Homo sapiens: one gene and its partners. The protein of the gene in region 1 interacts with the protein of each later gene in a biochemical or structural test. Each region holds a gene or a part of one and is shown in the gene's direction. Other genes may lie near its edges.

The links. Proteins that work in one complex are often made in the same cells at the same time.
Region 2: the proteins of SP7 (region 1) and NFIC form a complex in vitro, tested with the Homo sapiens proteins (one study listed by BioGRID).
Region 3: the proteins of SP7 (region 1) and HNF1B form a complex in vitro, tested with the Homo sapiens proteins (one study listed by BioGRID).

The regions. Positions count from the first base shown.
Region 1 is NC_000012.12:53,332,931-53,340,706, reverse strand, and holds the start of SP7 (transcription factor Sp7), read left to right. Parts: upstream 1-4,352; 5' UTR 4,353-4,561; intron 4,562-4,930; exon of another isoform or gene 4,931-5,013; 5' UTR 5,014-5,060; coding exon 5,061-5,081; intron 5,082-7,776. UniProt on the Homo sapiens protein: Transcriptional activator essential for osteoblast differentiation. Binds to SP1 and EKLF consensus sequences and to other G/C-rich sequences.
Region 2 is NC_000019.10:3,369,583-3,377,050, forward strand, and holds part of NFIC (nuclear factor 1 C-type), read left to right. Parts: intron 1-7,468.
Region 3 is NC_000017.11:37,734,592-37,742,059, reverse strand, and holds part of HNF1B (hepatocyte nuclear factor 1-beta), read left to right. Parts: intron 1-2,420; coding exon 2,421-2,620; intron 2,621-7,468. UniProt on the Homo sapiens protein: Transcription factor that binds to the inverted palindrome 5'-GTTAATNATTAAC-3'. Binds to the FPC element in the cAMP regulatory unit of the PLAU gene. Transcriptional activity is increased by coactivator PCBD1.

The DNA.
Region 1 (7,776 bases):
AGGGCTGGGCTGGGTGCATGGGCGGGTAGTGGCCAGACCAGGGGCCCGGGACATGAGCGCAACTTTCCAAGCTTCTCTTCCAGGCCCCTGTGGTTGGGGAGCTCCACAGAGGGAGAGATGAGTCAGCGGGGCCGCAGAGCAGCGGGGGCCTGGGTGGGGGTAGGGATGCTGGGGTTCCCCAGGACCAGGGAGTTCGCTGGGGCCATCTGGGTCTCTGAACTCTGGTGTGTGTGTGGAGTATTGGATCAAAAGTACCTAAAGGTACACTGGAACTTCTTATACTAGTAGGAGTTGGAGGCAGCAATTTGCAGGACTGGCAGTGGCCTCCATATCACCCTTATCTCCAGATCCTTATAGGGAGAGGGGTTCCCAAATGCCCTTTAGGAGACCACAGAGATCTCCAGGGCTGTAAAGTTGTAATGGTAGCCCTGGGTATATGTATGTGACATTTGCCACATGTGTAGATACGTGTGTTGATGGGAGTCTGTGAGTCCATGTGGGGAGTATTCTAGGTGGCTGTGAGTCTGTATGCATGTATATATATACTGGTGTGTGCATTTTTATGATTGGGGGTTAGGGTGTCTTGGGGTAAGCATTATCTGTATATGTATATATCAGTGTGTGTCAATATGGATGCCTGCATAGTACAAATGTGTATGAATTATGTGTCACCTTGTGTGTGTGCAAGTATGCAGATCTGAATGTGTCTGTCATCAGGTATGTATTAGGGCATGTGTCAGTCTCTATTTCAGGGGCTCTGCTCACTATTCTCTGGTGATTCTCCCTAGGGTAGTCAAACCTTCTATAACAGCAACAATGAAGAGTTGGGAGTCCCTTTGGATGAGGCTCTTAGAGACAGCCCAGCCTAGAAAGGTGGTAGAGGGTGATGGTGTGGACGATGGAAGTAGCATCCCTTGGGAATAGGGGGTACAGGTCTCCCACTCTCCCCAGTTTTTTTTTTCTTTCTTTTTTTTTTTTTTTGAGATGGAGTTTTGTTCTTGTTGCCCAGGCTGGAGTGCAATGGCATGATCTCAGCTCACTGCAATCTCCACCTCCTGGGTTCAAGTGATTCTACTGCCTCAGCCTCCCAAGTAGCTGGGATTACAGGCACCCGTCACCACGCTCAGCTGATTTTTGTATTTTTAGTAGAGACGGGGTTTCACCATGTTGGCCAGGCTGTCTCAAACTCCTGACCTCAGGTGATCCACCCACCTTGGCCTCCCAAAGCGCTGGGATTACCGGCGTGAGCCACTGCACCCGGCCCCACTCTCCCCAGTTTTCATTCTGTTTTCACCCCACTGATCTTTCCAAAAAGATCCAAAATCATTTGGAGAACTGAGGCAGGTGCCAGATTCAACCCCCTCTAACCTACAAAGCCCACCCTGATTCTCCTAGGGGAGGGTGGGAAGGGAATGGTTCCTGTGGTTCAGCCCAGTCCTGGCATTGGGATATCAGAAAGGCATCATCCCACCCCTTCCGTCTGGGGCATCCATCCCTTGGAGCTCAGCGTCTGGGTGGCCATGGGCGGAGGCTGAGGGGCCCCCAGGGTGGTGGGGGGTGGTGGATAGAAACCAGATGCCTAGGGGGTTTATACTGGAAGGACCAGAGCCGCAGCCTCTACCCGCCCCTGCCACATGGCGCCTCTCCCTGGTCTGCCCCACCCCCTGGGAGGCTGGGCTGAGGGAGGCCTGAGAGGGTGGAGGTAGGTCCTTGGTTAGGGCTTCCAATTGCTGCCCCCAGCCCCTCAGGGCACTGGGAAGGAGACTGGGGAGCTGGACCCAGGAACACCAGAGCCTCAGCTGGGCTGCAGGACTATTTTTAAAAAGGACATGGAGAAGTCAGAACCCAGGGGTTCCTGAGGGCAGCAGCTGGGGGATTCAGGCAGCCCCTCTGCCTATCTTTGGCGCTGATCTCTGGTGGGGAAGAGGCTCTGTGTCCAGAGGGTGTCCTATGTTGACACATCGGGGCACTGGCTCACATCTTCCTGGGACTCTGCTCCTCCTTTTTATTTCTCCGAGAATAGTAGGGTTCGAATAGAGAATAGTAGGGTTTGAATACGTCTGCCCCTTCCCGGGTAGGGTTAGGGATTAAAGCCCACACGGGGAGTGAGAAGGTGACCCTTCCTTCCAACTCCTCTCCCCAGCCCTGTCTGTCCATTTATCTTTCCATCCTTCCTCCTTTTCCCCTTCAGTTTCTTCCTTTCTTCTCTCATCTAATCTGAGTCCCAACCCCCTCCTCACCTGCTATCTCTTCTTTAGAATCTAGACTTTCTCCTCCTCTGCCTCAGTTTCCTGCCTGATCTAACTGGGTCGGGCTTTTCTGCTGGTGATACAGGAATTTCTCTAAAGCTTCTCTTTCTCAACTTCTGAGTTCGGGGCCCCGGAAAGCCATCTGGCACCTCAGTCTCAGACTCCCCCCCAACAAGGGGGAGACCGCGAGGTCACAGGGACACCCCACCACGGGCACTTCCTCTCAGGCAGACGGGTGGGGTGGCCCGTGTAATCAGCGGACACAATTATGTGCTATTTATACTCCTTCCCCGCCCCCCCACCTGCCTGGCAACACAACCCTCCTCCTCCTCCTCCTCCTCCTCCTCCTCCGGACCTGGCTATGCCTCAGGCTATTTTCTCTGTCCTTCCCAAGCCATTGTCTCCCCATCTTTGTTCCTCTGGGCCTGTTTCTTTATCTTTTTAGTTTCTTTCCTGCTCTGTTTTTTGTTGTTGTTGTTGTTGTTGTTTAAAGCCACACATCTGGTCTTCTGTTTTCCTGTTTCCTCTCTCTTATACCTGGTGATATCTCTTCTGATTGTCTTGGACTCTTTCATTTGCTCTGTTTCTTCTTTTGCTGCTTTCTCTTTGTCTATCAGCCACCTGGTTCCCAAACCCTTCCCCTAAACCTTGGGTTCCCAGAGTTCCTTGAGGTAAATCAAATCATGGGGCTAGAATCCAGAACTCCTGGGCCCTACCCTGAAATTGGTGCCTACCTGCTGGCGAAACTGCTGTGCAACCCTCCGTGGACCTCCATCTGCTCCTGCCACCTCCCAGCTTTTTCTTTGGAGATCTGGGAGAGCAAAAGGAGCAAGGAATTGGGCACTCCGAGAAAGTGAGGGGATGGTGTTGCAGAGTGAGGAGAGTGGAAAGGATGGGGCTTTATTCCCCTGACAGGGAGAGCTGGGAGGGGGAGAAGTGTGTGTTAAGGAATAACCTGTAAAACAACCCCAGCGGGCTAAGCCCCCCTGTGGGAGAGCTGCCGGTGTCACCACTTAGCTGCCCAGTCCTCTCTCCCATAAATACCTCAGGGCCCATGGCCCAGGTTTCAGGTAATAGACTTTTTGGGTTTCCCTCCTAACCTGGCTGCCCTTCCTTCTCTTACTTCCTATTTTGTTGGGAAGTCCTTATTAAGTTCTAACTTCAGTTCTTTCTGTGGAAGAGGGAATTGATGCATGGCAATGAGAAAGGGAACCAGGAGTTCCCAGGAAAGTCAGATCACTCTGGAGAACTGTCCACCAAAGGATGGAGATTAAACCCATGGTCTCTAAGAGATGGTAACTTGGTTACCCAGGGATGGTAACTGACAAGGAATATGGAGGTTAGGGCATTTCTTTTTGGGGGAAATAATCCAAAGAGGTTAGGTGTCGGCATGAATGAGTTGACCCAATGACCTTCTACCGCCACCCTCACTCCTGCTTGTCTTAAATTTTCTCTTCATCAGAAGATCCAGGTTCTGCCCCACAAAGTGAGGTAGGCCTAGGTATCACCTCCAAACAGTGAAACTGAGGCACTGGGAGGAAGACTGAGGGACCCCCAAGCCAATACCAAGCCTTCCCCAACTCTTCAACCCTTCCTCCAGGCCTTGCTCTGGAACCAACCTCAGTGACACTAAAAGTTTAGGCAGCAGAAACCTCCACCTCAGAACCTTCCATGCCTCTTCCCACAACATACACACACACACACACACACGGGCACGTACACACACACAGGGGCACATACACACTGCTCTCCTGATCTAGAGGCAGGTGGGTGACTGGGGAAGCAAGCCTCTCCATGGTCAGCTGGGGCGGGTGTGGTGCGTGTGCCTCCAGTGCGTCACTGTGTGCATTTGTGTGTGTCCGTCTGTGTTCATTCATGATAGTGGCTGTACCCATGTGAGTGGTACTGTGTGTACGTGTGCATGCATCACCCCTGTGTTTGGCCATGAGTGTGTATGTCAGTGCGTTCCAGTCTCTCTGTGTGAGTGTCGTCCCCAACCCCCCATCCCCCCCCTGGATCTCTAATTAGTGGTTTGGGGTTTGTTCCTTTTCCCTCCTGTTCCTTCCCTCAGCAGCGGCGGGCGGCAGCAGCCTAGGCAGCAGCAGTAGCAGAAGCAGCAGCCGCCGAGCAGCAGCAAGGACTCTGGAGTCAGAGTAGGACTGTAGGACCGGAGCCTGAGTGGAACAGGAGTGGAGCTGGCCTGGGAGAGAGCGGATCCCTCCCAGCACCCTCAGGCCACCCGTTGCCTGCACTCTCCCTGCCAGACCTCCAGAGAGGAGAGACTCGGGACAGCCAGCCCCAGGTTCCCCCAGGTACATGACACTGGGGAGCTCTGGGAGGGGTGCCCACAGATGCCTATGGGACTGCTGCCGCGTGTAGGACACCGGGGTCCACCATCCCTTTAACCTCTCCCCTCAGCAGCCCCCCGAGGAAGCCCTGACAACTTGCCCATGCTGCTCTCCCCTCTTCCTGCTTCCCACCCCTTCCATGGGCGCCCCTTTTTCTCCTCTCCCTCCCTGATCCCTTCTTTGGGGAGCTCAGCAAATGGAGCAGGAAATTTGGACCCTCTGCCTCCCTCTCTCGCCCTCCTCATTGGATCTGGAGCCTTCTCCGCTGGGAAAGCTGTAATTAGAGGGTGGATCCCTACAGACAGAGAGCAGCCCCCCACCCCGGTCCCTTCTAACTTTAGATCTCTTCTCTCCCATTCTCCCATTCTCCCTCCCTCTCCCTTTTCTCTCTCTACCCCCCCCACCCCCCGGCTCAGCTCTCTCCATCTGCCTGGCTCCTTGGGACCCGTTCCCCAGCCTCAGGATGGCGTCCTCCCTGCTTGAGGTAACTGTCCCCTCTTCCCCCCAGGAAACCAGCCACAACCTTAATGGTCCTAGTCCTTGCCCACCCACCTCCTCCAACTCACATAGATAGTAGCTGTGGTGCTTGTCAATTCCAGGGGTCCTTCTGATGAGGAGAGAGGAGTGGGGTCCAAGAAAGGGGAAGCAGAGGGCAGGAGAAAAGGGAGGGAAGAATAGGGCCAGGGGTCAGAGGGCAGTGGAAAGAGGGTGAGAGGGGATTAGGTCAGAAGAAGGCATGGACCCCTACCTAAGGTCAGCTAAGCACACTGACTGTGAGGAGTGGAAAAGCGATGGAGAAAGGAGGGGGAGGGGGGCGAGGGGGAGTGAGGAGAGAGGGGTGGGAAATACATAAGCTGGCAGAAGAGATAGAAGGCAGAGAGGACTGGCTGAGTGGGCACAGAGCAGCAACTGGGTATAGCTCTTTAGGGGTCCCGTCTCCTGGGACTCGTAGCCCAGACAGGATCTTGCCTGGTTTTGTGGGGAGGGGGCTGGGCCCGTGAGCTGGTGTGTGGAGGAGAGGAGGTAGGCTATGAGAGAAAGGAGGAGGCCAGCCTGTGCCTGTGGGGGAGCTGACCAGGGGAACTGAGCCCAGGCCTGTGAGGGAACCAAGGAGGAGGGACGGGGTCTGAGGCCGCTTGCCCGGCTTACAAATATTTAGCTTTCAGCCAAAGACAAACTCAGCTCTATTTTGGGAGTGGGAGGCTCCAGGGCGGACTGGGCCACTTCCCCTCCGGGCTGGGACCCCAGCATCCCTTGCCTCTGGTGCTGGGGACAAAGGGAATTGGGGTACCACTGGGGTCAGGGTTTGGGGTCTTGAGAAATTTCTGACTCTACTCTGGCTTCTGGGGGACCCAAGGCACAGAGTTGGGAAGGCAGGGCTCACAGCCACTCAGGGCCAGATTCCTCCCTGCTTCTGGGTCTCTGACACTGTTCCTCTGTCACCATCTCTGTCCTGCTTTCTGGGTCTCTCTGCAGGAATTTAGGGCCAGAGGGCCCTCCCTGAAAGTCAGTCCCCTTCAGTAGCCTTGACTCTTCCCTATTCTTGGGTCCCACATCTCTCTTCCCAGTGCCCTAGCTCAGGCCCAGGGGTGCTGGGCCAAACAGGAAGCCAACTCACTCAACCTGTGGGAGAGGTGTGTGTTTGTGAGATGGGGCAGGAGTCTTTTAACACCTGTGTTCATTGGCCTGAGTGTAATCGTTAGGGTGCAGTCGAGGGTGCCACAGGCCCTGAGAGTGTGTGTGTGTGTGTGTGTGTGTGTGTGTGTGTGTGTGTGTGTAAGTTGGGCCATCTGAGTGCTGTGAGTCCAAGTGATAAATGGTGTGTGCACAAGGCTGTGAGATAGTGAATTTGTGGCTGAGTTTGGGGGAATAGCATGCAAGCCAACCAGATGGACACCACGTCCCTTGTCACACTCTGTATCCAGCCAGGGGTCTACCCGTAGCTGCAATGGGAGCAGACTGTCATCCTGCCACCTCCCCAACAGACTCTATTTTGAGCCATCATTGAAACACTGTGGTCTTGAGGAATAAGATGCATGGAAATCCTGGGTCCACCCAGGGCAGGGACAGTGTCAGTGGGCGTGGGCATCATGCCAGTGTTGCCAACGTGGCGCTGGTGGCTTGGGAGGGACTGGCCCAGAGGCCTGCTGGAAAGACATGGGATTGGGATAGTGCATGGCGAAAGGAGAGTGTTGTGGAAGCTAGACTTTCATGTCCCCTCACTCCTGTGAGCTGGAGATGCCTGCAACACGAAGGCACACCAGTCCCTCCTGTCCCTCGACCACTTGCACCTAGTTTTTGAGTACCTGGGCCCTCAACTTCCTCCCCACCTCCCCAGGAAGCCCTCCACCTTGTATGGGTGGGCTCTCTGGCAGTGGGAAGCAGCTGCTGCTTGATGGGGGGCTCACCTCGGCCAAGTGAGATTCAGGGGAACAGGGAAGGGGAAGAAATTGTTGGGGGCCTAGGTGGGAAAGGAGAATTGGGAAGCTGGGAAAACGAAGAAACTTGGGAGAAGGCTGAGAAAGTTGAGAACTGGAAAATGGGACCTTGACTGCTCCAAACCTAAGGCCAGTCAGCCCTGAGATGTCTAGTGAGCACTTCCGCTGGGAGGCCAGGCTGGGCACTGCACCATGAGCTCCCTGGGAGGAGGGGATCCCCCTCCCCTGCTCCACATCTGGGTGGGAGAGTTGGGACAGCTCCTATCTTGTTCTTTTTCCAAACACTCCCACTTCAATACTTTAATTCTGTTTGTCTTGTTTTGTTTTGTTTTAAGGGTGGTGGGGTGGAGGTCGGGAGGGAACAACTCGAAGGTGGGACTGCTGGGCCCTGGAAAGGGAACACATTTGATCAGGTATGGGGACACATGTTTAGAACTCTTAACCAGTGCTCTTTCCCCAAGTTCTCAGGAGAGAACAATCAGCAAGAGAAGGAAACTGAGGCTGTGGTGAAACTTAGCCACGTGCTCAGCCTGTAGCCCCCAGAGCATTCTGAGTGGGTCTGGTTCCTCGCTCCCCATTCCCTGCCCTCGAGGGCCCTCTGGGCCTCCACTCCCCAGGGCTGGGGTCTCCTGTTGGCCTGGGGCTGGCTGCCTTCTTTCACCCCTCCTTCCCTCCCCACAGCTGGGTGGGGTCCCTGGGCTTGGCTGAGGCCCCTGTGGCCGCAGTGTGAGGGCCGGGCGG
Region 2 (7,468 bases), on another chromosome or scaffold:
GGTGCTGGCGGCCCTGGGGCATTCTGGGAGCCCCGGGCCGGGCTCAGCGGTGACTCAAGCGCTTTTTCACTTTTACTCTTAAGAGGAACTGTGTGGAGCCCATGGCTCCCATAAATCCTGCCGGCGGGAAGGCCGGCCTCCCCGCGCCTGCTCTGGGCCTCCCTCCCTGCCTCCCTCCCGCTGGCGCCACCGCCACGTTAGTTATTCCGGGTTTGGGGCCAAGTCCCTCTTGGCCGCAGCGTGGCGGATTCCCCGAGCCACCTCCATCCCGCCACCGGGTCCCTGTCTCATTCGTTCGTTGTTTCCTTCATTCGTTCGTCCCATGCCCTCTCGGAGCACAATGTGCTTTGCTGCCATTTCTCCAGCAGGGTAACCGAGGCTGGGAGAGGCTGTCCTCCCACCCCAGACCCCCGACCTTTGTTGGATTTTCTAGATCTTCCTTAAGCATCTCCTGGGCCCTGGGGATAGGTGGGGGTGGGGGAGGCAGCAGGGCCCAGGCCCAGTGTAGGTTCTTAGAGGGAGCTTGGGGGGTGCCTACCAGGAGCAGGGGGCCTGCAGCCCCTCAGTGCCGGGAGAGGGGCTAAGAGTCAGAGAGGGCCAGGGCCTGCCCGAGGTGGCACAGTGGGGCTGGCAGAGCTGGGGTTCAGGCCATTTTCCATCTGGCGGCTTGGGCAGGTGGGCGCTCTCTCCCCGTGTGCCCCCCACCCGGGGCCTGGTGGCCTCTGATTCACTCTCTACAAGGCTCCACCACTCTCCCGCTGTATCTCCCTCTGGGTCTCTCTGTGCATCTCTCTCTGTTTCTCCCCCTCCCCTCTCTGCGGCGGAGGTGCCTCTGCGCGCCAGGGCCAAGCGCCCTGTAAATCACCAAAGCTGGGATTCTGGCAGAGTCAGCGTTCTCCTCTCTCTCTCTCTCTCTCTCTGTCTCCCTCCCTTTCTCCCCCCATCTCGCTCTCTCCTCCTCTCTCCCTCTCTCCTTCTCTGTCTCCCTTTCCGTCTTTCCCTCTTCCTTTCTCTCTCTCTCCCCGTCTCCCTTCTCTCCCTCTCTCCTTCTCTCTTCTCTCTCTCTTTCTCCCTCCCTACCTCCCTCTCTGTTCCTCTTCTTTCTCTCTGTCTGTCTCTTTCTTTCTCCCTCCCTTCCTCTCTCTCTGTTCCTCCTCTTCTTTCTCTCTCTCTGTCTCTCTGAGCTGGCCTCCCTCCCTGTCTCACACCAAATGGATGGGAAATGCTGCCTGGGCCTCCTGCCCCGGACACGGCCCGCCCCCCACTCTCCTGCCTGTGTCCACGCCGACCTCACCTGGGTGCCCATCTGCCCTGAGCACACAGCGTGCGGGCACCCAAGTCCTGACCAGTTCACATCCATGAGCACACGCTGGGCGCACACGCGTGCACACTCCCTGACACCCATACGGACGAGGACACAGCTCTGCCTGCCTCGGATCTGCCTTGATGGGGGTCACCAACACACAGACCTAGAGTGCCCCTCACATCTGCCTGAAAATCTTGCTCAGGAGGTGCCAAACCCAATATAGTACCTGGTATAGAGAAGGTGCCAAATAACTGCTATAGAGTGGTGCCAAATAAGTGTTGCTGTGCTTGTGATTGTTGCTAAACTAATTCTCCTCTTTCCTGACTCTGGTGGGTGACCTGCCCCCACCCCCGGACCGTTTCTTGCCCTGAAATGAAGTCAGCAGAAACCCCCACTTCCTCAGGGCTGCTGCAGATTCAGGGAGGCAGCACAATTTTTTTTTTTTTTTTTTTTTGAGGTAGAGTCTCGCTCTGTCGCCCAGGCTGGAGTGCAGCGGTGCGATCTTGGCTCACTGCAGCCTCCGGGGAGGCAGGACATTTCTGAGGTCCACAGTGCAGGGCTTGGTACTCAGTAGGTGCCCAATAAATACCTGTTGCACGAATGAATGAATGAATGAATGAATGAATGAATGTTTTTGGTTGAGAGGCGGGACTTTGGTCTTCCCGAGCCTCCATTTCTCCGCCAACATAAAATAAAAAACATAATGGCACTTTCCTCAGAGACATCGATGTACCTTAGTCCGACACCTGGTATACAGTAGGTGCCAAATAAGTGCTGCTGTGCTTATGGTTGTTGCTAAACTAGTAATTGCATTGAACACCCCAGAGGCATTTTCCAGTTTCCCTCCCTTCCCTCTGTGTGTATTTGCGCAGCGTAAGCCCAGCTTTGGGCTGGGTGACAAGGACAGTGGTGACCTGGAAAGGCCCAGGCTCAGACCCCTCTCTACTGTGGCATTTCTGTTAGTTTTTCTTTTCTTTCTTTTTTCTTTCTCTCTCCTTCCTTCCTTCCTTCCTTCCTTCCTTCCTTCCTTCCTTCCTTCCTTCCTTCCTTCCCTCCCTCCCTCCCTCCTTCCTTCTTTCCTTCTCTTTCTCTCTCTCTCCCTCTCTCTCCCTCTCTCTCTCTCTCTCTCTCTCTCTCTCTCTCTCTCTCTCTCTCGGAGTCTTGCACTGTCGCCCAGGCTGGAGTGCAGTGGCGTGATCTCAGCTCACTGCAACCTCCGCCTCCTGGGTTCACGCGATTCTCCTACCTCAGCCTCCCAAGTAGCTGGAATTACAGGCACGTGCCACCACGCCTGGCTAACTTTTGTATTTTTAGTAGAGACGGGGTTTCACCATGTTGGCCAGGCTGGTCTCAAACTCCTGACCTCAGGTGATCCACCTGCCTCGGCCTCCCAAAGTGCTGGGATTACAGGCATGAGCCACCGTGCCCGGCCTCTGTTAGTCTTTTCTCCCTGCCCAGCCCTGTCCAGGGTCTCCCTGAGTTTGACCAGCCCTGTGTGGGTACCAGCCTTCCTTACACATGGGGGTGCATGGATAAGGGGGGTCCCAGAGGCAGAAGATGGGAGCATTGCTTCAGTGGTCTGGATGCTGGAGATGCTAACAGATCAAAGCTGTGCCCTTGTGGGACCGACAGTCTAGGCCGGGTCGGGGACGGGCAGGAAACGAGGTGACCAGGACTCCTTGAGGATGTGGTGTGCGACCGACCTCGGGGATCAAACAAGGGGAAGGGAACCACGTGGGACTCGGAGAGTGTGCACGGTGCAGACCAGGTGTCACTGGACGCTCTGGCCCGAGACTGTTTGCTCAAGGGGCCCAGGAGTGGGGTGGGGGGGTGCCAGGAGGCCCAGGGACCAGTCCCAGCTCAGTTCCTCCCTGACTGTGTGACTTTGGTGGAAGATTTCATGCCTCAGTCTCCTCCTCGAGGTAGTGGGTGCAATGATAGTCCCCACTTTCATAGTAGACTTTTTTTTTTTTTGAAACAGAGTCTCGCTCTGTCGCCCAGACTAGAGTGCAGTAGCACAATCTGGGCTCACTGCAACCTCCGCCTCCCGGGTTCAAGCGATTTTCCCGCCTCAGCTTCCCAAGTAGATGGGATTGCAGGTGTGTGTCACCGCACCTGGCTAATTTTGGTGTTTTTAGTAGAGATGGGGTTTCACCATGTTGGCCAGGCTGGTCTTGAACTCCTGACCTCAGGTGATCCGCCCGCCTCGGCCTCCCAAAGTGCTGGGATTACAGGTGTGAGCCACCGCGCCCGGCCCCTATTTCGTAGTAGACGTGATAGCTCAGCAAACGCTCAGCCTGTAAGAGGCACAGCCTCGCTCCCTGCCTCTCTCCTCCACCTCCTGGCCCCTCTGGCTCAGCCCTCATTGTCCTCCCAGAACATCAAGGCACAGAGGGAAGTAGGGGACCCAGGGTTCATTTTGCTGACTCACTGCCTTGGCAGAGAGTTTGAACCCTGTGGACTCAGTTTACCCAAATTCCTCACTGTGGCCCACAAGGCCCTGCCCAGCCTGTCCTTGTCCCCTCCTCAACCCTCCCCTCCTCTCTCTTTCCCCCTTGCTCATTCTGCTCCAGCCACATGGGCCTCCTCGCTGTTCCTCTAACACGCCAGGTGCGGTCCTGCCCCAGGGCCTTTGCATGACCCATTTCTCCATCAGAAAGCTCCTGGCCTGGAGTGCCATCTCTCAAGACTTTGTTCAGGTGTCTCCTCCTGCAAGAGACCTTCCTGGACCCCCCCCCCAAGCTAAAAAACACCCCCCACCCCAGAGATTCTCTGGTCCCTCAAACTCTTAAATTTCTTCAGAGCACTTTGCCCAACTTGACGTTTTATTACATATTTTGCTGATTTTAACCATCCGTCCCTGCCCCAGATCTGGATCCAGGTGAGGGCCGAGCCCAGGTCCCTGCCAAGTCCTCGGCACCCTACCTGGGACCGGCATGCAGCAGGCACTCACTAAATGTTTGCTGAGCAACAGAATGAATCTTCCCTCTCTGGGAGCCGTTCACATGTCCACAGGCTGTGATTTTCTGAGCCAGGGGAAGGAGCGGCCCAAGGTTAGAGCCTGACGCTGGTGCCGGATGGGCCTGGGGTTGTCCGTGGGACCATGGACAAGTCATCCGACCCGGAGAAGAAGGCATTAGAACTAAGGCTTTGAAGGATGCGTAGGAATTTGGGATAAGTGCTAAGTAGGTAATGAGCTAGATTCTCATGAAGGATTGTTGAGTCACTTTTACCTGGAAACTTTTGGTTTGGAAATTGGAGTTTCTTGTCCTGGTTTGCTGGCCTGGACTTTCAGGGTGGGAGGAGCACAGGGAGGTGAGTGAGGGCATCACCCAGTGCATGGCGTGGTCGTTCAGCAAGGTCTTGGGTCCAGATGTCTCTCCCAGCTGCTGCTGCTCTCTTTGGCCAGGAAGTCCCAGTGGGCTAAGCTGGGGTTTCCAGGAAAGACCTAGCCTTGTTCCCCTTCTCCCCATCACCTTGCAAGGAACAAGGTCACCAGGCAAGCTCCCCTGTCTCCAGCAGGCTGCAATATTCCTTTCTGCCCATTGTACAGAATGAGAGACTGAGGCTTATCTGAGGTGATCTGTTCCCCAGCCATTCAGATGGTGAAAATAGACCTTACTGTCACCCAGCCACCTTCTCCGACAGTGGGTGCCTCAACTCTGGGCCTCAGGATTGGAGAGGGAGAGGTGATAGAACTGGATGGTCCTGGCTAGATCTGGGAAACCCTGGGTTGAGGAGGAAAGGCTGCTTGAAGGAGGGGACACTAGAGATAGGGCGTTGAGGGATGTGTAGGAGTTTGGGAGGATTTTCAGCATCTAGCTTGTCTTGGTTATCTCTTTTGCCGGTTGGGCCTCTGAGGGCAGTAGGAGGTCCCTGGGGAAGAGGCCCTGGTTATTGCAGGTCATGTGGGAGAAACAGAGTGACAACCGGCCAACCAGGCCCTGCCTCTCACGTGGTCTGATCCCCTGGGGAGGACAAGGGAGGATGGGGCAGCAGGTCCATGACCCAGTTACAAGCTGTTTGTCTTCCTGCCTCTGTAACTAGCCGGGGTCACCACTGACGTGGGCCCCCACCCCTGCCCGCCTCCCTGGCACCTGTCCCCGGAAAGGGCACAGAGAAGGGGAGGAACATAGAGAAGGGAGGGACAGTTAGGGAGGAGGAAGGGAACTCAGATCTACGAGGGGCCAGATGAGAAAAGGAATTAAGAGGAGAGGGGAAGTGGGGAGGGGGAATTCAGAGAGAGAGGGGGGTTGGGGAGAGAAGGAGTTGGGGGGACAGTGATCCCTGCCCCCATCATGGATGCCTCCCCTGTCCCTTCCAGCAGCCTCTTATCACAGCCCCAGTAAGCGCCAGAGCTTGGGTGGCAGCCACGGCCCCAGCTGGACAACATTGTCCGGGCCTCCTGCCCGCCTGGCATCTCCTCCACAGGCAGGTCCTGCGCCTCTATGGGTCCTCTCTGCCGCGTCCCACTGTGCCCCCCACCACCCCCACTGCCCGGCTTCCCTGGCCAGACCATCTGGGCTCTGGTCCCAGCTCTGCTGACCGGCTGTGTGACCCTGGACAAACCACTCCCCATCTCTGGGTCTCATCCAGTCAGGGGCAGGGACGAGATTGGACAGGGCCTGGGCCGGGCCCCCTCCACCTCCCCTTTGCCTTAGCAGGTTGGCTGGGGAAGCGGGGGCAGCGGAAAAGGGCCCTGAGGTCCGGTCCCCGCCGCAGCTGTTACGGTGACTCACGCTTTGGGGGACATTGGGGTGGGGGAGCTTCGCTGGTACAAGCTGACTCTGGTCTCACTGGGTGGGGAGGCTATTTTCAGAGCCTCAGTAATAGGTGAAATCTGATGTCCTGCCCCTCCCCCCGAAGCACCCCACGGCCGGAGGTGGCCCAAGGGGACGTGGAGCACAGAGCAGGGAGGGTGATCTGGCAGCAGCTGCTCTGCCCATCCCGGCCTGGAAATGGGACCGAGTCCAGCCACATCCGCTGGCACACACAGTGGGAGTCCAGGGTCAACGTCTCCCTACCTTCCTGAGACCCCAATCTTACAGAGAACAGGCTGTTCTGAGAAAGGGACCCGTGGCCTTCCAGGGGGTCAGGGCCCTGATTCTTATCCTCACACCGGCCCTGAGACCCTGTGGGACCTCAGCCAGGTCTCCGCCCCTCTCTGAGCCTTAGTTTCCATGCCACAGAACACGGAGCGGGGCCTCAGGCTGTTCCCTGCTTCCTGGAAGATTGTCTGCAATCAAAATGATCATCGCAGCAATCGCGTCCATAGTAATGAAAATACCCCAGCATCTTAGAGGGGCCGAGGCGGGAGGATCGCTTGAGCCCAGGAATTCGAGACCAGCCTGGGCAACATAGCAAGACCCCCATCTCTACTAAAAGTACAAAAATTAGCTGGGCATGGTGGCGCACCTGGAATCCCAGCTACTCGGGAGGCTGAGACATGAGAATCGCCTGAACCCAGGAGGCGGAGGTTGCAGTGAGCTGAGATCATGCCACCGCCCTCCAGCCTGGGCAACAGTGTGAGACACTGTCTCAAAAAAAAAAAAAAAAAAAAAAAAAAAAAAAGGAAAGAAAATAGAAAATATCCCAGTGCCTTAGGAGGCCGAGGTGGGAGGATCACTTGAGCCCAGGAGTTTGAGACCGGCCAAGGCAACACAGTGAGTGAGACTCCATCTCTGCAAAAATAAAAATTAGCCAGACATGGTGGTTTGCACCTGTAGTCCCAGCTACTCAGGAAGCTGACGTGGGAGAATCGCTTGAGTCTGGGAGTTCAGGGCCCAAGTGACCTAAGATCGTGCCACTGCACTCCAGTGAGACGCCTGTCTTTTTTATTTATTTATTTATTTATTTTGAGACGGAGTCTCGCTCTTGTTGCCCAGGCTGGAGTGCAATGGCGCGACCTTGGCTCACTGCAACCTCTGCCTCCCGGGTTCAAGTGATTCTCCTGCCTTAGCCTCCCGAGTAGCTGGGATTACAGGCGCCTGTCACCATACCTGGCTAATTTTTTGTGTTTTTAGTAGAGATGGGGTTTCGCCATGTTGGCCAGGCTGATCTCAAACTCCTGACCTCAGATGATCCACCCACCTCGGCCTCCCAAAGTGCTGGGATTACAGGCGTGAGCCACCACACCAGGCTGAGACCCCCATCTCTTAAAAA
Region 3 (7,468 bases), on another chromosome or scaffold:
ACCGGTGCCTTTCTCGGTGTTAGGGAACCTCTGAACCTGAGCTGTGTTTTCAAACAAACAAACAAAAATAACCAGCTCTCCCGGCTCTTCCCGGTGAACACACGTGAATTTTGGGGTCAGAGGGTTGTGAAGGTATAACTGCGCCATCTTACTCCTCACTCTTTTAAGTCGGACTTAAAAGGTTTTGCCATTATTTATAAGGTTCTTGGGGGCTTTTTTTAAACCCTCCCCAATTGTTGGGCTAATTCACTGTTTCCACAGAATCATTCCCACTTAGAACAGTACCCTATTTTTCTAGGTTTCTTAGGCATACAAAATGAACACAGGTAAAGGCATTTAAACAAAAGAAAAATAGCCGAAGAATTTGCTAAAGCAATATTCACTTTTAAAATGCAATTTTTCCCCTAAGGTTCGAGGAGTCTTGTTCGTAGCCGTTGAAAGTATTTTTCCATCCTAAAAATATCGGTGGAAATATTGACCAGAAATAAACTTTTAAATGATCTGTGATGTTTACAAGGATATGTCTAAAACGTTTATTACATTATTTTCCTCTTAATGTGAATTCTCCACGTTTGAAACTGTAACTCGTTTTCTCATTTTTTGTTCTTCTTGTTACTTCCTCATATTGTGTACTTGGAAATTACCTTTGTAAATACTTGAGAAATTCGTTCTTATATATAATTAATATAAAAAGTTTGCATTTCTCAAAAACATCTCTATCAAAGCCTGTGTTCTCACGAGTTTAATATCAAAGTCTTAATAAAATAATCACAACTACCCAAATGCTTATAAAATATGTTCGATTACTGGATTTTTATTCATTAAACAGAATTAATTTTATTTGACATATTTAAAGGCGCCATTTAGAAATAAAATTGCTTATTATGTTGCAATGCTGTATCTATTTCAGCCTCTACACCGTTTTCTTTTTTGTTTCACCTGAAACTAGTTTTCCCTTCCGTTTTTTTTCTTGTTCTATCAAGCTAATATATATATCAACATACAGTAATGGGGTGCTGGTTTTTGTAAGTTAAATATGTACCTGCATTAAATAAATAGTAAACATGTATATATTGCTTCTTTAGTACTTTTGTTCTGTGCTGCACACTATTTTAATTTCTAGTTTTAAATTATATCTCTCTTTTCAAAGCATCTGTTCAATAAGCAAGAAAAGATATTGGCAAAGTTGAAACCATTCTAGACAAATAAAATTCAAAGGTGCTAAAACTAGCAGTTTACACACCTGTGTTTATGAGAAATGAAAAGTATAACCATGTTCTTATCCAGTATTTAAAATTTATGAGAAACATAATACAGGAAAACAAGCATCTAAAATTGTTAATGTCCGAAATTGAAGTTATTTGTCCCCATTAGCCCAGTAGATTTTGTCTGGAAGGTGGAGCTGTGGATTTTTTTTTTTTTTAACTACTTGCCTCACCTCAGTGGTGTGATCCTCCCGTCCCAAGGAGATACAACATTGTATTTTGGAAAACTTTTCTAAAACTCTGAAAATTATTTACTATTTGGCTAAGACATCCTCCTTGCTTCTTAGAAGGTGAACACATACATTTCACCCCTGTTTTATAAGAAATGGAGATACCCATTCAAAAGGAAAATAATGTAGGAGAGGTTGAAGCTAAAATTGGGCAAATTCAGAAACTGATGCTATCCCTACTTCATTGTAGGATCAGGGAGTCCAGCCCCAAGCTAAAGGCATCCCCACTTTCCAGTGGGCCTCCTGCCTTTTAAATCTCCCACATTGCAGGAAAATGGAGGAAAGCAAAATAAAATGGCCAGGCGCGGTGGCTCACGTCTGTAATCCCAGCACTTTGGGAGGCCGAGGCAGATGGATCACCTAAGGTCAGGAGTGTGAGCCCAGCCTGGCCAACATGGTGAAACCCCATCTCTACTAAAAATAAAAAATTTAGCTGGGTGTGGTGCTGGGCATCTATAATCCCAGTTACTCTGGAGGCTGAGGCAGGAGAATCGCTTGAACCCAGGATCCTGGTGGAGGTTGCAGTGAGCCAAGATGCCGTTGCACTCCAGCCTGGGTGACAAGAGCAAAACTCCACATCAAAAAAAATAATAATAAATAAATTAATTAATTAATTAAATAAAACAAGAGCTTTTCTTTTTGCTTAATAAGAGAGAGTGGTGGTGGTGCTTTTTTATTCCTGAAGATGGGAAGTCCTCTTTTGCCCACTAACCTCAGAAGAAAGGGATGAGGTGTACCGTACAGGGGCAGTCACCTTCTCCTCTGTTTAGCTTCCATTTTGGCCTCATGTCTACCCCAAAGTTGTAGCTTAGATGGGGGGAAAATTCAGAATTTTGCATAGACCATAGGTAGCACCCCCTAGAAAAAGAATGTTTCTCCCCAGATGTCTCCCACTAGTACCCTAACCATCTGCTTGTCTGTCTAGTGAGGACCCTTGGAGGGCTGCTAAAATGATCAAGGGTTACATGCAGCAACACAACATCCCCCAGAGGGAGGTGGTCGATGTCACCGGCCTGAACCAGTCGCACCTCTCCCAGCATCTCAACAAGGGCACCCCTATGAAGACCCAGAAGCGTGCCGCTCTGTACACCTGGTACGTCAGAAAGCAACGAGAGATCCTCCGACGTAAGTGTTTTCATCCTGCCTCTGCCTCAACCTGAAGTGACCTTTGCCCTCTCACCCCATTGGCTGCCTCAGTTTCCCTTTCATCGACAAGGCCTTGTGAGCACTTGGCAGATATGAGGAAGGTGGCAAGTAGATTTGGCCTTGGTGGTTGCTGTACAATGGATTGGCTTCTGTCATGTTCTTCAGTCACAGCCCCCTTGCTACCCAGCCAGTTGCTCTGAGGAGCCTGTCAGTGTATGCAGCATACCTTAAACTTTTTGGCCCCTCCTTCCACCTCCTTCTCTTTGAAACCAAGTAGGTGACAGAGTGAAATGTCTTCCCTGAGAGAAAACCCAGCATCTCCCCTTGATACGTGACCATCAGTCAATTTCCAAAGAAGACATTTCGTTGCAGTCAATAATATTGATTACTATTACTGTTAATTTCCTCCTCTCTGGAAAAAGTATCAACAATAGAATGCATTTGTATAGAGAGATATATTCAGAACTTCACCCTGTTCTTGGAGGATAGTGGGAGGGATTGAATCCTGAGGCAATTTAAGGTGTTTACCCACATTTACCAACACTGGTAGAGTGTGGGGACCTCAGCTGGTGGCCCTGCTCATGAAGAAGCTATTTCTGGCTAAGGCAGGGCACAGGAAAAGCATCTGCATTTGGAACTCTGACCCATCAATTCTTGTCATCCCCATTCCCATCCCAAAGTTTTTTTTCTGTCCCAAGATTTCTCCCACCCAATAATTCTAAAAGGTTTTTGTTTTGAAGTACGTCTAGAGAAGTTTGAACTGCCTATGAATAACAAGAGTAGGAATGACATACTGTCTGTATTTTAGGAAAGTATTCTTTGACATTACACTTTCATTACTTTGATCCAATCCTTTTCCTGGAAAATTTGTATCGGTTTTCACTCTCCCCACACACTATCCTCTGGCTTTATCTAGGCTTCTCTGTCTTTATCAAGATGTTAATTTCCACCACTATCTGGGTTTCTGGGTTGGGTTTTTTCCCTGTTGCTTTTTAAAATGACTCTTGTCTTCTGTTACACACTGCTCTGAAGTGATTGTTTCAGTATTTATTGTCTCAATGTCCCTGGGCTGGTGAAAGGAATGGTTTTAGGTGTTCATTTCATATTGTGGTGTTTGTGCTTTTGTTGGGAGCATTACATGAATAGATTGGAAGAAGCAACATGAGAGCTGTTTGCTGCTTAGAGCGAGAGACCTTTCCAAGAATGGGTTGGCCCCCCATACTTGGTGACTAGCTCTTTAAGAATTTGTGTTCCTGACATGAAGCAACTCTCTGTAGTTCCTGGAAAGCCTAAAAAAATTCTCAGGAGCCATTGTCTCCAAAGACCCAACAACGCTTGGGCCCTGCCCAATTTAAGCTTTATGCAGCATTTCCAGTCTGTGCTGCCTCTCTGTATTCAATGAGAATTTCTTCAGAAAGGAGAAGGAGGCAGGAAAGGCAGACTGGAAACTTCTCAAAAGACAGAGGTCCAGAAAGTTTCTCAAGATGCTGAGGAAGGGACGTTTTACAAATACAACAGCCTCTTCAAGAGATTGTTGTTATTGTTATTTTTGTTTTATTTATTTATTTATTTATTTAACTTTTTGAGACGGGGTCTCGCTCTGCCACCCAGACTGGAGTGCAGTGGCGCGATCTTGGCTCACTGCAAGCTCCGCCTCCCGGGTTCACGCCATTCTCCTGCTTCAGCCTCCCAAGTAGCTGGGACTGCAGGTGCCCGCCACCACACCTGGCTAATTTTTTTTTTTTTTGGTATTTTTAGTAGAGACGGGGTTTCACTATGTTGGCCAGGCTGGTCTTGATCTCCTGACCTCGTGATCCGCCGCCTCAGCCTCCCAAAGTGCTGGGATTACAGGGGTGAGCCACCGCACCCAGTTGTTATTTTTGTTTTAAAGTCACACGAGACATAAAAGCTTAAGAAACATTCCTTCCTTCTGTAACTATTATACAGGCACCTACTATGTGCCAAACACTACGCTAAGCTATGGAATACATAGGTTCTTTTCTCCAGGGACTTACCTGCCATCCAGTGAAGAAGTGGAGATGTTTGAGTAAATAATGACATTCACTTTCTAAGAGCTGTTATAAAGATATACACAAGGGGCAGCAGAGGAATTGCTAAATTGCCTGGAGACATCATGGGAGGCTTCCTAGAAGAGGTGACATTCAAATCATGTCTTGAAGGATGAATGTAAGACATGCAAGCATGATATAAGAATTAGGAAGTAAGAGAAATAAAAGAGGGACACAAGTGAATGGGGTGAGGAGAAGGAGGAAGAGGGGAGAGAATAAAAAATGATACATGATTACAAATTTCCTGGAAAAACTAAAAATAACAAATGGTAATATTCATGGGCCCCTCTACACACACAGAACCTCCTTGTCCAAGCAGCCCCCAAGCCTATAAAGAGGCTACTGAAGCCAACTTCTCCAAGATAATTTTCATGGGCAATGAACATTTTCTTCCCCAACCCCAATTAATCTGAAGGGAAGTAGAGAAGAGTTGTTGGTGGCTAGAGGGAGCAAATGTGGGAGTCTAGTTCTTCAAAAATTGGGAGAGGCTAGAGCCAAGCCCCTGATGTCAGTGGAACCCGAATGGTTCTGAGCACCTACAGGCAAACCCACCTGGCTGATTTGAGGACACACTGAGTTCTGAACACTGTTCAGCCTGCTACCTCCTCAAAGGGCAGGTGAGAGACTGAGGCAGCCCTCACACTGGGGAGCAGCTGCGAGAGTGTCTCACACCCACCAGACACAAAGCTTCAGGAATCGGTTTTGTCACCTCCACACAAGTCAGATATGAAGCGTTTGCGGGGTACGTGGCTTGGGTTTTGTTTTTAGTGAGAGGTGATGCACAGGCTGGTAGTTAGGAGCCTGCAAGCCTGCAGGCTGGGCTCGTGTCCAGGCTCCTGCCCCAAGTCCACATGACTTTGGACAAGTCACTTCACCAGTCTGAACCTCAGTTTCTTCATCTGTAAAATGGAGGTGGCTGTACTTCTCACATGGAGCGGTCGTAAGAATTAGATGAAGGAATATATTTAGAGGATTTGGCACAATACCTCACCACAGAAAAGGTTCAATAAATGTGAACCGTTATTGTGTCTGTTCACATCAAATGAAAAAATCTCACATTGCTCCCAGGCCCTTGGGATGATCCACACTGGCTTTCGCCATTGGTGACTCTACTGGTGCCACACAGGGCCCACGGGGAGGAGGGAAGACACTGTGACAGACCTCACTGAGCAGGGGACATCTCCTTCTCCCCCTTGGATTTCCCCTCAAGTAACTGCATTTAGAGAGCTGCTGTGAAGTCAAATACCATAGAGGGGCTAAAGCACTTTGAAAAGTATAATCAGGTGGGGCATGGTGGCTCACGCCTGTAACCCCAATGCTTTGGGAGGCTGAGGTGGCGGGAAGACTGCTTGAGGCCAGGAGTCTGAGACCAGCTTGGGCAACATAGCGAGACCCCGTCTCTACAAAAATAATTTTTTTTAATTAGTCAGATGTGGTGGCCTGCACATCCGTAGTCCCAGCTACTTGGGAGGCTAAGGCGAGAGGATGGCTTGAGCCCAGGAGGTCAAGGCTGCAGTGAGCTATGATCGTACTACTGCATTCCAGCCTGGGTCACAGAGCAAGACCTTGTTTGAAAAAAAGAAAAAGTATAACCCCCAAAGGAATTTGGGCCAACATCACTATCATCCTGACTAGGGGTAGATATTCTAAAAGACTAGTTAGTGTCCCTAAGCTTTCAGTCAGTCTCATTCCACAGCTGGGGAGACTAAATGATGAGGGAATTAAGCTGGGGCCCCACATGATCCCACTAGCAGTGACTTCCTGCTAGTACATTTGACAGGGACTCTCTCAGGTCTATAGTGGCATTGTTGGGCACCACTGAAAACAGAGCCCTAAGGTGGCCTAAGAATCCTCCAAGGTGAATGGGCCGAAATCAAAGGCCCCAGTGACACCATCAGTCCACAGTTAAACAAAGCCCAACACCACCTGCAGTTGGGATTGCAAGTCTTGGCGGGCTAGGGGCCCTAACCATTCCTCCCGATGGAGCAAAATGGAAATGAGCCTAAGACAGGTGGTAAGTTCCCTGCTGCTGGAGGCATATAGCCTGGAGGGCCACTTGGTGTGGGGTTGTAGAGGGGATTCAAACGTTAAGTAGTAGCCTGACTTGAACCTTGAGGATTTTGGATCCAGTTGTCCAAAGGAACAGGAAGGATGGCATGTAAATGATGGCACATCATTTACATCACAAAGGGAGGTGGTAGCCTTCCACTTTCTGTGACCTGTGGGAGTAATTACAGGAACTGAGAAAGAAAGTCATCAAGGTCGGGCACGGTGGCTCACACCTGTAATCCCTGCACTTTGGGAGGCTGAGGCAGGTGGATCACCTGAGGTCGGGAGTTTGAGACCAGCCTGCCCAACATGATGAAACCCCATCTCTACTAAAAATACAAAAAATTAGCTGGGCATGGTGCCGCACACCTATAATCCCAGCTACTCAGGAGGCTGAGGCAGGAGAATTGTTTGAACCCGGGAGGCGGAGATTGTAGTGAGCCGAGATCACACCACTGTACTCCAGCCTGGGCAACAAGAGGCAAACTCTGTCTCAAAAAAAAAAAAAAAAGATATTAAGATCCAGAACATAGGGACCCAGAGCTAGGAGATGAATGTATTACGTGTCTTTGCTCAGCAGAGTGCTTAGCCTCCATGTTTATTCATCTTTAAAATGGAATTAATCACTCCTGATGAGCCCTGCTTCATGCAGATGTGAAGACGAGGACAGCAAAGCTTTCTTCTTCGGTAATGTAGATATCAAATCTCA